Linked DNA regions of Homo sapiens. The protein of the gene in region 1 interacts with the protein of each later gene in a pairwise test. Each region holds a gene or a part of one and is shown on either strand. Other genes may lie near its edges.

Region 1 (3,572 bases):
TGAAACTAATACATATTCAGTATACTCTTTGACTTATGATAAACCCATAAGTCAAGGAGTCTCTGTACAGCAAACCTCTTTTGAATGAATGGAGGCAGGAGTTGCAGAGGACAGAAGAGTAGACTATAATTATTATCTCAAAAAATTAATGCTGTAATAAGTACATATCAATATTGCCCATAAATAACGAGTAAAAATGTAGAATTTAAAGAATTTTACTTGATGGTATTTCTAGTCAAGTTCTAGGTAGTTGGGGGGAGAGGGGAAGGATAGCATTAGGAGGAATACCTAATGTAAATGACGAGTTAATGGGTGCAGCACAGCAACATGGCACATGTATACATATGTAACAAACCTGCATGCTGTGCACATGTACCCTAGAACTTAAAGTATAATAATAATAAGAAAAAAAAAGTTCTAGGTACTCAAAATTTCCAGGTAAAATATTGAAAATTATATTCAAGAGCATCATTTTAAACTGCTTCCCAAAGGTAGAACATCAGGAAATGTTTAAGATAGTAGTTCATGGTTGGGCGCAGTGGCTCATGCCTATAATCCCAGCACTTTGGGAGGCTGAGGTGGGCAGATCACCTGAGGTCAGGAGTTCGAGACCAGCCTGGCCAACAGAATGAAACCCCATCTCTAACAAAAATTAGTCAGGTGTGGTGGCGCGCACCTGTAGTACCAGCTACTCAGGAGGCTGAGGCCGGAGAATTGCTTGAATCCAGGAGGCAGAGGTTGCAGTTAGCTGAGATCACGTCATTGCACTCCAGCCTGGGCAACAGAGTGAGACTCTACATGTTTGGTATACATTAAAATCACCTATGGGGCTTCCCCAGCATATATATGCCCTGGGAACTGTCTGATTCAATAGGTGGGGTGGGCCTGGATATTGTTATTTCTTAAGCATGTTTCTGATATGCATTAAATGTTAGAACTATTTAGAATACTTAAAAAAACTAGTACATGTACATTATTTCAACTACTCACACAATTTCTGTAGGACTGAAACACAGAAATTAGCTACTGTTGGAATGAAACTGATAGAACCATTACCTTTGAAAAAAGGTTTTCTAAAATTTGTCTATCAAAATCATCCTGTGAAATTAAACATAAGACAAATGCCATTTAAAAACAGCAAAAAAATTTTTATATAATCTACGGTTTCTTTTAAAATAGTCTAAAATCTAACATACAGTAGGCATGATCTGATACAAATACAAAAGAAAATTAAATTTATTTAGAAAATAGTTTCTCAGTAAGATCTTCACCTTCTAAAGACTTCCATAAAAATATGTAATACTTAAATAATTACTAATAGACCTTTCCCAAAACACTGCATTGTAACAAATATAAAGTTGGACTTAACTAAAATGGTAGTTATGAGTGTTAGAATGATACCAGATACAACTAAATATATGCATATTATGATAAATAATAGCATAGCATTAAGAGAAGAATGCCAAAGAAGGGATAGTATCTTCAAGTTTTCTCTACACATCATTCTAGAAGAGCAGAAAATGATGACAACTCAAGCCATGTCAATTTAAATAAAATTACTTTAGCTAAGAAGCAGAAAATGTGATCAAGAAAAGCTCAATCAATCTTAGCCACTTCAATCGTATCAAATAATACTAAAAATAATAAATTTGAAGGCTAATCTATGCAAAGGCAGAATGCTAATAATACCAGAGGAAATTTGGCAACTATTGCCCTTATAGAATTATGACGTCACTGTAGCAGTTTTTTGTTCATTAGATGCTTGGATTAACGAAGATATAAATAAATTAAACATAACCTCTCCATTTTAGCAAACTTCCTAAAGAGGCTGAGTCTTTTAATTTTCTATAATTTCTTCACATTCCAATACATTCCTATCACATTTAACCCAGAAGAGATTAGGTAACATTCTAATGCTTTGTAAATTGTATTTAAACCCACTATTTTAACTTGATACACATGCATAGATTTCTTAGATAAAATAATCAAATATTGTTTGCATCATACAAAGGTGGTATTTCAAACTCTATTCAAATAAGTCAGTCCCATGTCCCACCAGTGGCAATTTATTATGAAAATAATGTGTGTGCTGTGAAATGGTGAAGATCTCTACAGACTACAAGCATTAAGTGTTTTTATTATGTCCTCTAATTGGTTCTTATGACTTGGGTCCCAAATAGAGAAAATTAATGAATTAAAGAAATCAATACCAATAAAAAACATATTAACTGTACTACAGGTGTAGTTTAAAAGCAGAACACAAAAAAGCCACAGCATGGCAGAAATAAGAAATGATGTCATCTCACACTGAACAACAGCCTTGTGGGGGGAAAAAAAAAGAAAAAGAATATCACCATGCTGTTTGATTGGCACTATAAAAATTGACTTTGTGGAACTCATAATTTCATATCCAAAGATCAGGCAGTGAAATAAATTAATATGTGGGAAAAGTGGCATGGGGATGAGTGGTGCAAATATCAGGATAATAACGAATTTTCTACATTCATTTGGAAGGAAAAGGACCATTGTGAAACTACAACCACCACCAAAAGTTGTGGTTTAATTTATAAAATTAACAAACCCCAAACTTATAGAAAACTCAGATATAAAATATTTAACTATAGTTGGCTTTCTGGTAACTCAAAATGTTTACTTATAATTGAGGTTAATTTCTTAACTCTTTATGCAATATAATGTACCAAATTTAGAAGCCAAGTGATTTCTAGTATGCATTAAGTTTATATCTAGAAAATTCTTTCTGGAATTCAGTATTTATTTTAAAAAGTGCATAACAGGAGTAAGAGAGGCTTACCAAAATATTTCAAAACTCAAGTACATTTTCCTCATCTCCAATATTTTAGAACGGAATAAAACATAAACTGAATCAAATTTTGAAACTGTCTTTGACAAGATAAAAACACCAAATATCTACTTAAAATTCATTTTGAAAATACAATCTCAGATAACTCAAACCAAAAGTGCTGACCATTGGTTTTCTCCAGAATACTCAGTTCTAAATGAACAAAAATTTATATGCACTTTTCTAGATTTTGAGAAACATTTTTGTTTCATTAGAAAAGTTATTTCTAACAATATATTAATAGAGAAATAGCACAATTCTTATTCAGCGCCTAAATTTTTACGAGCGAAAATATGAAATTTTATTTTTATGCATAGTTTATGTATTGATCCATGGGGCTTACAAATAGCAACACACTCTTGGGCTGATACTATCGTGGATTTTGCTTAAATTATGAGGGCAGGAAAATTTTAAAATCCCACAGGTCACAACTGAATCACATTAACTGGCTGATTTAGTAAATGAAGGGCAATTCTAAAATGCAAAATAAAAATGGAATTAAGGCAGCTTTAAAAGAAAATAAAACTCATCCACCCAAAATAGTGCTACATAATTCATTACTTAAAAAGCTCTCTGTGGAGTATAGACATAAAGCCAAAAATAAAAACAAACATTGCAGTTGTGATGCAGCATCAGGTGCTTTTACTTCAGTGAATGAAAAATAATGGTCACAACTCAAATGAATGGGAATTTAATATGAATATATGCACCT
Region 2 (3,661 bases), on another chromosome or scaffold:
AGGTGAGAAGGTACCTGGCTATAAATATGAATACTGATTGAGGCAGGCTTGATCTGGGACTTTCAGGGCAGGCAGAATGACTATGGCCCAGGTCCCACAGGATGTGGAGTTTCCGGGCTCAGCATCATGGTATCTGGGGCCCATGTCCAAGTGGAGTGAATTCTAGCTGGGAAGGTCCGCTCAGGCACACGGGAACCCCGGTCTGTTTTTCCACCCCCACCCCATGGAGTATCCAAGGCTGGTACCTCACCTCCCCCCCAACCCCAATAGCACCCATGTGTCTCAGGAGCCTTTGGATGCCTCCTGCCATCCTGTGTGCACCCTGAGGCCCTATAACTCGTCTCGCATCTTGTCACCCTTAGGCCGGACCAGGCGCCCAATGAATAGCAGGGAGCCGCTTTGGGTGTCCCGCACTAGGAAGATGAAGGGGTGGTCGGCGTAGAACAGCTTGGGGCTGCGCAGCTCCTCGCGCCCGTAGATGTCCTGGTCAAAGGGGTTGCCATCTGTGTCCAACTCAAAGGCGGTGGCGTGGAACACGCTGGCCAGGTACAGGTCCTTCTTGCCTGACATGCGTGACAAGTCGGCCTTGTTCTTGTCAATGGCCTCAGTCAGGCCCAGCCCAGCCAGGTGTTTCTGTGGGAACAAGGAGGTGTGCCAGGTGAGGCCATGGCTGCCAGGCTCCTCCACCCTCAAACCCTCCACCCCATACTACCCTGACCGCTCCTCAGAGAGGAGAGAACCACCCCCTGGTCACCTTCTGTATGCCAGGCATGGCACTGGCACTTCAAATCACAGCTTTCTCAATTCTCACTGCAACCCTACAAGGGCTTCTAATTGCCACTTCACAGATGAGGAAGCTGAGACTCAGAAAAACAAGTGAGAACGTATCCCGGCACTGCCCAGCTGCAGTTCAGGGACAGACAGCATGGGCACCACCCAGGAGCTTATCTCAAATGCTCATGTCCTGACCCCAGCCCAGACCCCCTGAATCAGAATCTCTGGGAGTGGGCATGGATTCCTTTTCACAAACTCCCCAAGTGCTTTCTTAGCATACTCAAGTTTGAGAAAGACTGATCTAAGGACAACTATGTCCACATCACTCTGGGGCTGAAAACCTGTCCAGAGTGATAGGATGCCTGGAATTTGCTTCAGAATAATCAGATGCAGGGGGGAATTAGTGGGTATAAATGGATCACTATTGGCCATGAGCTGATAATGCTTGAAGCTGGGCGACAGACACTTGAGGTTTCATTACACTAATCTACTTTTATTTTTCCAATGTTCGATAGTAAAAAGTTAAAACACATATACACACATACACACACACACACACACAAACATCTTTCCATGGCCCTGCACAGCTCTTGGAAGCCAACCATAAGCTCTTTAACATATGACCTGTGCCTACGTGGCAGCCTCCAGCCACATCCCTTGGCACGCCCCACCCCACTCTCCAGACAGCCTCACAGAACAGCTTATATCCTGGATGGCCATCCTGTCTCCCATTAGGGCTCTTTAGAAACCACTTCTTTCAGGAAGCCTTCCCGAGCCCACAGGATGAGTGGTGCCTCCCTGGACCTTCCTGTTATCAGTCTGGTGCTGCCTGTCTCTCCCACCTGGCTTGGAGCTCCCTGAGGGCGGGGCCCATGTCCAGCGCTCTCCCTGGCTCTCAATGCAGGAGAGAGGACAGTAAATGGCTGTGGGCTGAGTGAATGGCAGCATCCGGGTCCAGGATTCTTCAGGATAACATCCACCTCCCTGGCAAGGCCACACAGGAACTAGGCCTGAGGTCCTGAGAGTCAGGGGGTCATGAGACAGGCATTCGAGGTAGGCCCAGCTCTTCCCACCCGGATGACCTTGCACACGTCATCCGCCTCAAATTTCCTAACTCAATCTACCCCATATCTGGGGGGTGGGGTCTCCACTGAGGGTTCCAGGAAGACACCAGAGGAACAAGGGGAGAAGGGGGTGGGACAACAGCCACTGGAGAAGGGGCTGGGGAAGGATCAGGGCCAGGACCAGGAGAGAGACAGTGACCCCTCTCCAGGAACTCCCAGGGTCTACAGCACAGACCAGTACGAGCTCCACTTGTCCCTGGTTTGGAGCCTAAGCCCCACTTCATCTCCAGCTTTATCTCTCCAAGCTCTCTGGGCAGCAAGTCTGGATCGATTCTGCAGGTGAGAACCATTTGTGGCATCCAAGGAAAGAATGACACGAAAGTTTCCTTTTTTGGGTAAGTCAAAAATATCTCTCGATTGACAAAAAGGCGGCTATTATGTTTTTACCTTGAGGTCTAATTGCAACTCCACCACTTATGAGCCTGGGGAACCTTAGGGAGTCATTGCTTCTCTCTGAGCCTCTGCCCACTACCCAGGGTGGTTGCAAGGGAGAATCTTGAGAATGTGTGTTAAGTTTCTGGCCATCCTAGATGACCCATAGCTACCAGTCTGATTATTGGATGGTAGATAATCCTCTAGCTTAAACAATCTATAACTGGGGGCACTTCAGACCTCAGAGGCAGTGCAGTGACCGAGGGTTAGCTCTGGTGCAAGATGTCTGAATTACTAGCTGTGTGACTTTGCACAGGTTACTTAACCTTTCTGAGCCTCAGTTTCCTCATCTCTAAGATGAAACTTATAGTCCTACCTAATAAAGTCGTTTTGAGGATTAAAAGAGTTTAATACGTATAAAGGCTGGGCACGGTGGCTCACACCTGTAATCCCAGCACTTTGGGAGGCTGAGGCAGGAGGATCACTTGATGTCAGGAGTTTGAGACCAGCCTGGCCAACATGGTGAAATCCCGTCTCTATTAAAAATACAAAAATTAGCTGGGGGTGGTGGCACATGCCTGTAATCCCAGCTACTCGGGAGGCTGAGGCAGGAGAATCGCTTGAACCCAGGAAGTGGAGGTTGCAGTGAGTCGAGATGGCACCATTGCACTCCAGCCTGGGCAACAGAGTGAGACTCCATCTCAAAAAAAAAATAATAATAATACATATAAAGTGCTTAGAAGAACGCCTAGCATACAGGAATGTTCCGTTATATTTAGCTGCTGGTATTATCATCATCTTCCCAAGGGCATGGCCCACACCTCCTGCCCCAGCTTCCCCCATCACAGAGCCCAGCACTGCCTGGACATCCAGGGGGTCTTGGGACAGACCTGCTGAATTGGTGAGTGGGTCCCCCAAGCACCTCCCCCTGGCTCCAAGGCCTGCAGGCCCCTAGGCTGGGCCACCCCTTACCTGCAGGTCATGGGTCACCTCCACCACACCCTTGGGCAAGGAGATGGCAACAGCCTTCTTCTGCATCTTCCCCATCCAGATCTTCAGCTGCTCTTTGGTTAGCAGCTTTTCAAGGCGCTCGAGAGGCTCCACGTGATGGGGCATGAGGATGATGAGGCTGGAGAGCTTGTGGGCCAGGGGCATCTCCACGATTTGCAGCTTTTCCTTCTCGTCGTCGTAGTAGTTGTAGAGGCCTGGGAGAGGAGCGGAAAGGACACTGGGCACCCTGTGTGCAGGGGTGGGTCAGACCAACTACCCTTGGACCCCCACCCACCTTGACACCCTGCTCCTCACAGCACCTACCTGTCCGGTGCATCATCATGACACCCACGGTATAGGACCGAGTCACCATGAAGCCACGGTTGTCCACCATCTTGTGG

The links. Proteins that work in one complex are often made in the same cells at the same time.
Region 2: the proteins of MYNN (region 1) and SERPINH1 interact in binary tests that used the Homo sapiens proteins (3 or more experiments, as listed by UniProt).

The regions. Positions count from the first base shown.
Region 1 is NC_000003.12:169,786,734-169,790,305, reverse strand, and holds the end of MYNN (myoneurin), read right to left. Parts: 3' UTR 590-3,572; downstream 1-589.
Region 2 is NC_000011.10:75,568,753-75,572,413, reverse strand, and holds part of SERPINH1 (serpin H1 isoform 1 precursor), read right to left. Parts: coding exon 3,585-3,661; intron 3,476-3,584; coding exon 3,243-3,475; intron 634-3,242; coding exon 331-633; 3' UTR 1-330.